Linked DNA regions of Homo sapiens. The protein of the gene in region 1 purifies or fractionates together with the protein of each later gene. This does not show direct contact. Each region holds a gene or a part of one and is shown in the gene's direction. Other genes may lie near its edges. The genes, in order: ACADSB and GOLGA4.

Region 1 (3,827 bases):
TAGACTAATCAGTAAAAGACTGATGCGAAATAAGCCTTGCATGGAACCACAGGAGGTGTGCAAGACAGGTGTCAAAATACTAAGTGGCTATAAGCACACGCAGGAGAGTATTTTGTAAAACCCTGAACAGCGCTCTTTAGTCATGACCAGATAAATGTACTTTTCACAAAAGTGGAAACCTTTCTGCCAAGAAGCTGTCCTGGGAAGCAAGTGCCAAGAATTCATCCCATTTATGTTTTATAACTTATGTGCTTCTGACCACGTATACTTTATAAGCTTGAGACTTGTGAACCAAATGGGGCCGCAGAGAAGGAAGTCTGGTGTCAGTGCACTAAAGGCCACAAGATGGGGGTGTTGCTCAGTGAGAGCGGAAACAGCCAGGCTATTAAACGTGAGCAGCAGAAGATCCAGATAGTTAGTGCTGATGCTGGAGAACTCCCTGTAGGTGGGGCAGGTGGTGTCGGCTTTTCCACCACTCATCACAGAGCTTGATCTTTTTTTTGCATGGCTGTGGGGAGTGAGGGGGAGGATGTCTTTACAGATGTCACTGGGGCCTCATTACTTCACCCCAACTGTTTTCCTCATTCTTACTTTCCCATTTCTTTCTCCATTCTTCCCTGCTCTCTCCCCCAACTACCCATATTACAAAACTAAGTATAGTTTTTTATTATTCTTAATTCTTTATTTTTTTAAAGTATGAATAAGCATTTTAGTCTGTTTCTTCTCTCTTCCTCTTTCTTGTGCATACACCTGTGTACACACATGCACACACACATATACCCCACCGTTGATTTTTATGAGGGTGAATGGTCTCAACAGCAGAAAGGCTTACTACACTTGTTTTTGCAAGTATTTGCAGATCTTTGTAGTTCCTAATATGTTATCTCACACTGTAGCCTACAGATAAGAATTGGGGGGGAAAAGTATTAATTTATGTTATTGATGAATTCTATGAGATTCCCTTACTCTAGATTCACTCATCCATTCAATACCTGTGCAAGGCTCTGGAGGATGCAATCATGAACAGCATGGACTTGAGTCCTTTTCCTCAGAGAGCTGTGGAAAAACAGCGTAGAGGGAGACACAGATGCCGGCAAGTTCTGTGAGAGGGCTAGCACACGAATTGAGAGTCTATGTGTACTTACAAATATATAATCAAAATGAATCATGGAAAATGAAACTGAGAAATAAGTGCACATTTGTATTTTCAGGTTCCAGAAGCCAATATCTTGGGACAAATTGGACATGGCTATAAGTATGCCATAGGGAGTCTCAATGAAGGTAGAATAGGAATTGCTGCACAGGTAAGTCAGATTTAAACTCTTCCATGATGTGAGTCAATTAAACTGTGAAAAGAAAAAAATGCAATGAGACCAATGAATATTTGGAAGCTTATGGACACAAGATGGCACCGTTCCCTTACATGAGGGATAGAATGGCTTATTATTTCTTTCAAATTCCCTTTTGGTCAATTATGTAAGTGTCCATAGAACCAAACAATGGCTTGGTGGTAACAGTGTTTCTGCTTTGAGAACATTAAAGTATTATCTAATACCTGAACCGATAGCTTTTCAAATGTATTGTAAATTAAATATGGCACTTTAAAAAAAATCAACTTTTCAAAGCATGAAATTCATTCTGGAAGGAATTTTTTACATTAAGAATAAATAATATTCCTTCCACTGTGTAGTAAAGATATCTATAGTTAATAAAAGATTTGTTGCTTACTGTTTTGCATGTGAAAACTGGGCAAGTTTTTTGGCGGCACATGAAATAAAATAGCCACAGTTAAGTAGATACATAAAATGAGAACTATTCAAAATTTTTTTTTACCAAATTTGGCTTTTATAATGCATATTGCATTTTTCTATTAAGTAATATCAGTTATTTTCCAGATTAACAAAATGAATAAGGTCTTTGGCTTTACTTTAGTGTCAGTTTTGTAGAGTGTATATATATATATATATATATATATATATATATATATATATTTTTTTTTTTTTTTTTTTTTTTTTGAGATGGAGTCTTGCTCTGTTGCCCAGGCCGGAGTGCAGTGGTGCGATCTCGGCTCACTGCAAGCTCCGCCTCCTGGGTTCATGCCATTCTCCTGCCTCAGCCTCCCGAGTAGCTGGGACTACAGGCGCCCGCCACCACGCCCAGCCAATTTTTTTTGTATTTTTAGTAGAGATGAGGTTTCACCATGTTAGCCAGGATGGTCTCAATCTCCTGACCTCGTGATCCACCCGCCTCGGCCTCCCAAAGTGCTGGGATTACAGGCGTGAGCCACCGCGCCCGGCGTTTGTAGAGTATATTTTTAATCAGTGATTATACAAAACTCAAGAACTTAGAGCTTTTCAGTTTTGAAGATGTTACATATAAGCTATTGGAATAAATATTAGATTATTACTCTAGATTTTTTTCTGCTGCTGTTACTTTGCTAACTATTTTTAGACCAAAACTTAGTCTAGTTTTCCTACAATGCTTGACAGTGTGTCACTAAAGAATATTGTTTTATCAGTTCTCTTAAAAGTTTTTCTGTGATTCAACTTAGACATGACATTAGAAACTGCAATACTAGAGCTCATTTTTTTCAGACATATAAATAATATAGATGTTCTGGCAATAAAATACACAGCCTGGGCTTCAGTTTAATTACTCCAAGTTATATAATAACCTAATTAAAAGTTAAGATCAGGTAGTTACTATCTCAGTGGATACCTTTGAGAGGAAGAGGCACACGGAGTATAACAGTGAACTGAAGGCATCTGTCCTCGAAACCTTGCAGGCAGAGAGAATTCAGTTTTTCAGTGTTTGTAGTAGAAACATTTTACTGAGGTAGAAAAGCCCATTTTGATGGATAACTGATTATTTCAGTCTTCGTGTCAATATAGGGTATTATTTATGTACAAATTTTAGCTGTAAGGGTATAGTGACATCATCTTATCTCACAGCCAAGAGTGCAGTGAGTCTGCTGCCTCATTTGAATTTGGGGTTTGTGGTTTTCTTGTGCCTTTAATTTTTAACATATTATTCTGTTCTCTAGAGAGTTCAGAATAAAAGACTAAAAGAAAATGTGAATGAATACTAATGAAATAAATTGATAAGTCTGCTGGGCATTTCCCCCAAAAGCTTTAGCTATTGATTTTCTAAAACCATAATTTGACATAATTACTGATTTAGTGGCTACCTAATGTTGAAATTTAGAAACGATTTCTAAGCTTGAATCATATAATAGATATGAAAGTTGGTTAGCAGTGAGACAGTTCAGCTAAAATTGTCACCACGTCCTGTGTAAATTAATGTTTTTACTAGATGCTTTCTATCCATTGTTCTCAACCCTAGCTGTGTATTAAGTCACTAAGGAGTTTTACAGAGTTGAGGTTTAGGTCACACTCCTTCACCTACTCTACTCCCAAGATTTGGATTCAGTCATTAGGCCTGGGTATCAGTATTGTTTTAAATCAGATTCCCCAAATGATTCTATGGTACAGCTCGGATTCAGAACCACTGCTCTCTTATGTTCTAATGCCCTCCCATTGAAGCTCTCATTAATCCTAATCATATACAAAATAGACGGAAAGGTAGAAAGTTAAGAAGTGACCTTCCATATTTTACTTCTAGAAGAACTGGAGGGCCTTCCTCTATAGCCTTCAAGGCCAGTTCTGAGCAAAACTTCTATGGCTCATTTTATACCTGGAGAATCAAAGCTTAAGGAAGATTCCTAAAGAGTAATCTTAACCTAAAAAGGTTGTGTGAACACAGCCTTGCTGGGAGATTTACCTCTGCTAGAATTAAATGTGCTCATATTCACATGAAATCACTCAAAA
Region 2 (3,827 bases), on another chromosome or scaffold:
TTTAAAGAGTAATTGAAAGTTTGAAAATTGCTCTTTGAAATTTTGTTAAAGAATCCAAAAAAGTATTTATGTAACTTATTTTCCCTTTTGTTTTTAATTTTCCAAGAATGATCTTTGAAATTATGATTGTGAGAGAGAAATGAAAAATCATTTTCTAGATAAAAATGAAGTGGTATATTCCGTGAGAATTCAAAATCCTGTAAAGCCTGAGTCAAGGCCAGTCAGAAATAATGAAAACTAGTAAGATCAATTTTAAAATATAGCTTCATTACTTCCTGAAATCAGACAGTTTAACACAAGACAACACATTTGTCCTGAGGAGACCGTTAGGCAGCCTACTTTAATTGAATGTGATTCTTCCTGATTAACATATTACAGTGAAATGCAGGCATATGAAATGTTTCAACGCAGTTGACTGTCTTCATCATTTAAACCCTCTCCCCTCATCTCTATGTATTTTTCATGCTATTAGGTTGATTTAGCACCCTCTGAAAATGTACCATACATCTTTACCTCAGCCTTTGCTAGAATTTTCACAAAATCAAAAACAGATCACAATTAGTAGGGCTTCACTATAATTAAAATAAATACTCTCAGTGATTGTTAATATCCAGCTAATAATAGTATCAAGGTTTAAAATGGCAAGATACAACATTTCTCCGTTCTTTTAAGCTTTTATTTATTTATTTATTTATTTATTTATTTATTTATTTATTATTTTTTTTTTTTTTGAGACGGAGTCTCGCTCTGTCGCCCAGGCTGGAGTGCAGTGGCGGGATCTCGGCTCACTGCAAGCTCCGCCTCCCGGGTTCACGCCATTCTCCTGCCTCAGCCTCCCAAGTAGCTGGGACTACAGGCGCCCGCCACTACGCCCGGCTAATTTTTTGTATTTTTTTTTAGTAGAGACGGGGTTTCACCGTTTTAGCCAGGATGGTCTCGATCTCCTGACCTCGTGATCCGCCCGCCTCGGCCTCCCAAAGTGCTGGGATTACAGGCGTGAGCCGCGCCCGGCCTTATTTATTTTTTTTTAAAAAATAAGTAAAGCCTTTATCACCCTGGCTGGAGGGCAGTAGTGTGATCATAGTTCATTCCTGTGTCAGCTCCTGGGCTCAAGGGATCCTCCCACCTCAGCCTCCCAAATAACTGGGACTCTAAGGCACCTATTTTTTTATTTTATTTTATTTTGTAGTGATGGTCTTGCATAGGCTGGTCTCGAACTCCTGGGCTCAAGCGATCTTCCTACCTCAGCCTCTAAGCTTTTTTTTTTTTTTTTTTTTGAGACGGAGTCTCGCTCTGTCACCCAGGCTAGAGTGCAGTGGCGTGTTTTTGGCTCACTGCAAGCCCCGCCTCCTGGGTTCACACCATTCTCCTCCCTCAGCCTCCTGAGTAGCTGGGACTACAGGTACCCGCCACCATGCCCAGCTAATTTTTTGTATTTTTAGTAGAGACAGGGTTTCACCGTGTTATTCAGGATAGTCTCGATCTCCTGACCTCATGATCTGCCCACCTTGGCCTCCCAAAGTGCTGGGATTACAGGCGTGAGCCACTGTGCCTGGCCCTCTAAGCTTTTATCTTTAAAAATCTTCTGTGCCTTCATTTGAGCCTCCTTTTGATTTTAATATATATTATTTGATTTGCCTTAGCGATTATCCAGAACTGTCTTATTTTTGTCATCCACATTACAATGGCTGGCAGTACAATGCATGGTTTTATTAGGTTACTTTGATAATAAATGTGAACATTGAAAAACTGTAAATTCTATAGCTAACCCATTAAGTCTTAATGTTTTCCTTTTAAAATAATACTGCATTGTACTTGTTATTATTGCAGCTGAATATCAATTATCACTGGAAATGTATATTGTGCAGCATTTCTATTAATTGATTAATTGATTGTCTCCTCAACTTTTAGTTTGAAACATTTCAGACATAAGATTTGCAAAAATAGTACAATGAACACCCATATACCCTTCACCTAGTAATGTTTGGCCAGATTTTCTGACTTGCTGTCACTCTTGTTCTCTCTCCATTTATATTATTCCCCATTTGTAACATTTGGCAATTACTTGCCGACATGCTTGCAAGCATTTGACAATTGTAAACATAAACTAAGTACTTTAGCATGTATCTTTAAGAACAAGGACATTTTTCTACATACAGTACAGTTATTACACTCAGGAAGTTTAATATTAGCTAATACTAATATATAGTACATAATACTCAGTTTTTTACAGTTTTCCAAATAATGTCTCCCATAATTTTTTAGAATCCAGGATCCACTTGAGATTTCACATTGCATTTAGTGGTCATATTTTCCTAGTCTTTTTTAAACTAGAAAACGTCTAGCTTTTTTGTTTTTAATGATGCAGCATTGTTGAACTGATCTTGAATTTTGTTTCCCACAACAGATCAAGCTACGGTTTCAAAATAAAAACTGACAAGGAATTTACGTATAACAGAAGATCTTGTTGGTGTCTTCTTTAGGTTCCTAGGACCAACATGATTATTGAACTAGTTTTATAAATAATATACTATTAGTAGTACATTATGAGTAGTGAAATATTTGTTCATTTACAAATTCAGAAGACTAAAACTCCCCCTATCCACTTAATATATATGGAAAGTTTGCCTCTATTAATCTTACTTGGTAATTTATTTTTATGGGATTTTAAACTCATATCTTGATGTGACTACTGGTTTTAGCATTTTCTTTTCCTTTTCTTTTTTTTATATTTGAGACGGAGTTTCACTCTTGTTGCCCAGGCTAGAGTGCAGTGGCGCAATCTCGGCTCACTGCAACCTCCACCTCCCAGGCTCAAGTGATTCTCCTGCCTCAGCCTCCTGAGTAGCTGGGGTTACAGGTGCCCGCCACCACACCCAGCTTATTTTTTGTATTTTTAGTAGAGACCGGGTTTCACCATGTTGGCCAGGCTGGTCTCGAACTCCTGACCTCAGGTGATCCACCTGCCTTGGCCTCCCATAGTGCTGGGATTACAGGCGTGAGCCACTGCTCCTGGCCAGCATTTTCATTTGAGAAACATTATGAGGAAGACTTTGGCTATGTCATAGCTTTTTTTTTTTTTTTTGCCCCCCAGCATGGTCACACCAGCCTAGAGTGCAGTGGCGTGAACACAGTTCACTGCAGCCTTGACCTCCTGGGCTCAAGGAATCCTCCCGCCTCAGCCTTCTGAGTAGCTGGGACCACAGACACATGCCACCACACCTAGCTATTTTTTTTAAAAAAAAGTTTGTAGATACAGGGTCTTGCCATGTTGCCCAGGCTGGTCTTGAACTCCTGGGCTCAAGCAGTCCTCTGACCCTGGTCTCCCAAAAGTGCTGGGATTATAGGCATAAGCCACCATGCCCAGCCAGCATTTCTAATTAATTTATTTTTTGAGACAAGGTGTCACTGTCGCCAAGCCTGGAGTGCAGTGGTACAGTCAGCTCACTGCAGCCTTGACTTCCCAGGCTCAAGCGATCCTCCTGCCTCAACCTCCTGAGTAGCTGGGACTACAGACACACACCATCATGCCTGTCTAATTTTTTCTATTTTTTGTAGCAATGGGATCTCACTATGTTGCCCAGGCTGTTTTTAATTTTTAAATTAAATTTCTTAATTCCAGATGAGACATAAATTTCCACACCAAAATGCTGTTTGTCTTTTGCTATTATGTCATGCTGGGAGAATTGCAATTTGTAGAATAATCAGCACACTGGATAAGAGGAAAGAGCTCTTTCTCATCTTTATTTTTTATTGTTTTTTTGAGGCAGTCTCTCACTCTGTTGCCCAGGCTGGAGAGCGATGGCATGATCTCGGCTTACTGCAAC

Evidence for each region.
Region 2: the proteins of ACADSB (region 1) and GOLGA4 purify together in Homo sapiens (affinity purification with mass spectrometry; one large-scale study listed by BioGRID and IntAct). This does not show direct contact.

Annotation. Positions count from the first base shown.
Region 1 is NC_000010.11:123,043,182-123,047,008, forward strand, and holds part of ACADSB (short/branched chain specific acyl-CoA dehydrogenase, mitochondrial isoform 1 precursor), read left to right. Parts: intron 1-1,211; coding exon 1,212-1,304; intron 1,305-3,827. UniProt on the Homo sapiens protein: Short and branched chain specific acyl-CoA dehydrogenase that catalyzes the removal of one hydrogen from C-2 and C-3 of the fatty acyl-CoA thioester, resulting in the formation of trans-2-enoyl-CoA.
Region 2 is NC_000003.12:37,361,524-37,365,350, forward strand, and holds part of GOLGA4 (golgin subfamily A member 4), read left to right. Parts: intron 1-3,827. UniProt on the Homo sapiens protein: Involved in vesicular trafficking at the Golgi apparatus level. May play a role in delivery of transport vesicles containing GPI-linked proteins from the trans-Golgi network through its interaction with MACF1. Involved in endosome-to-Golgi trafficking.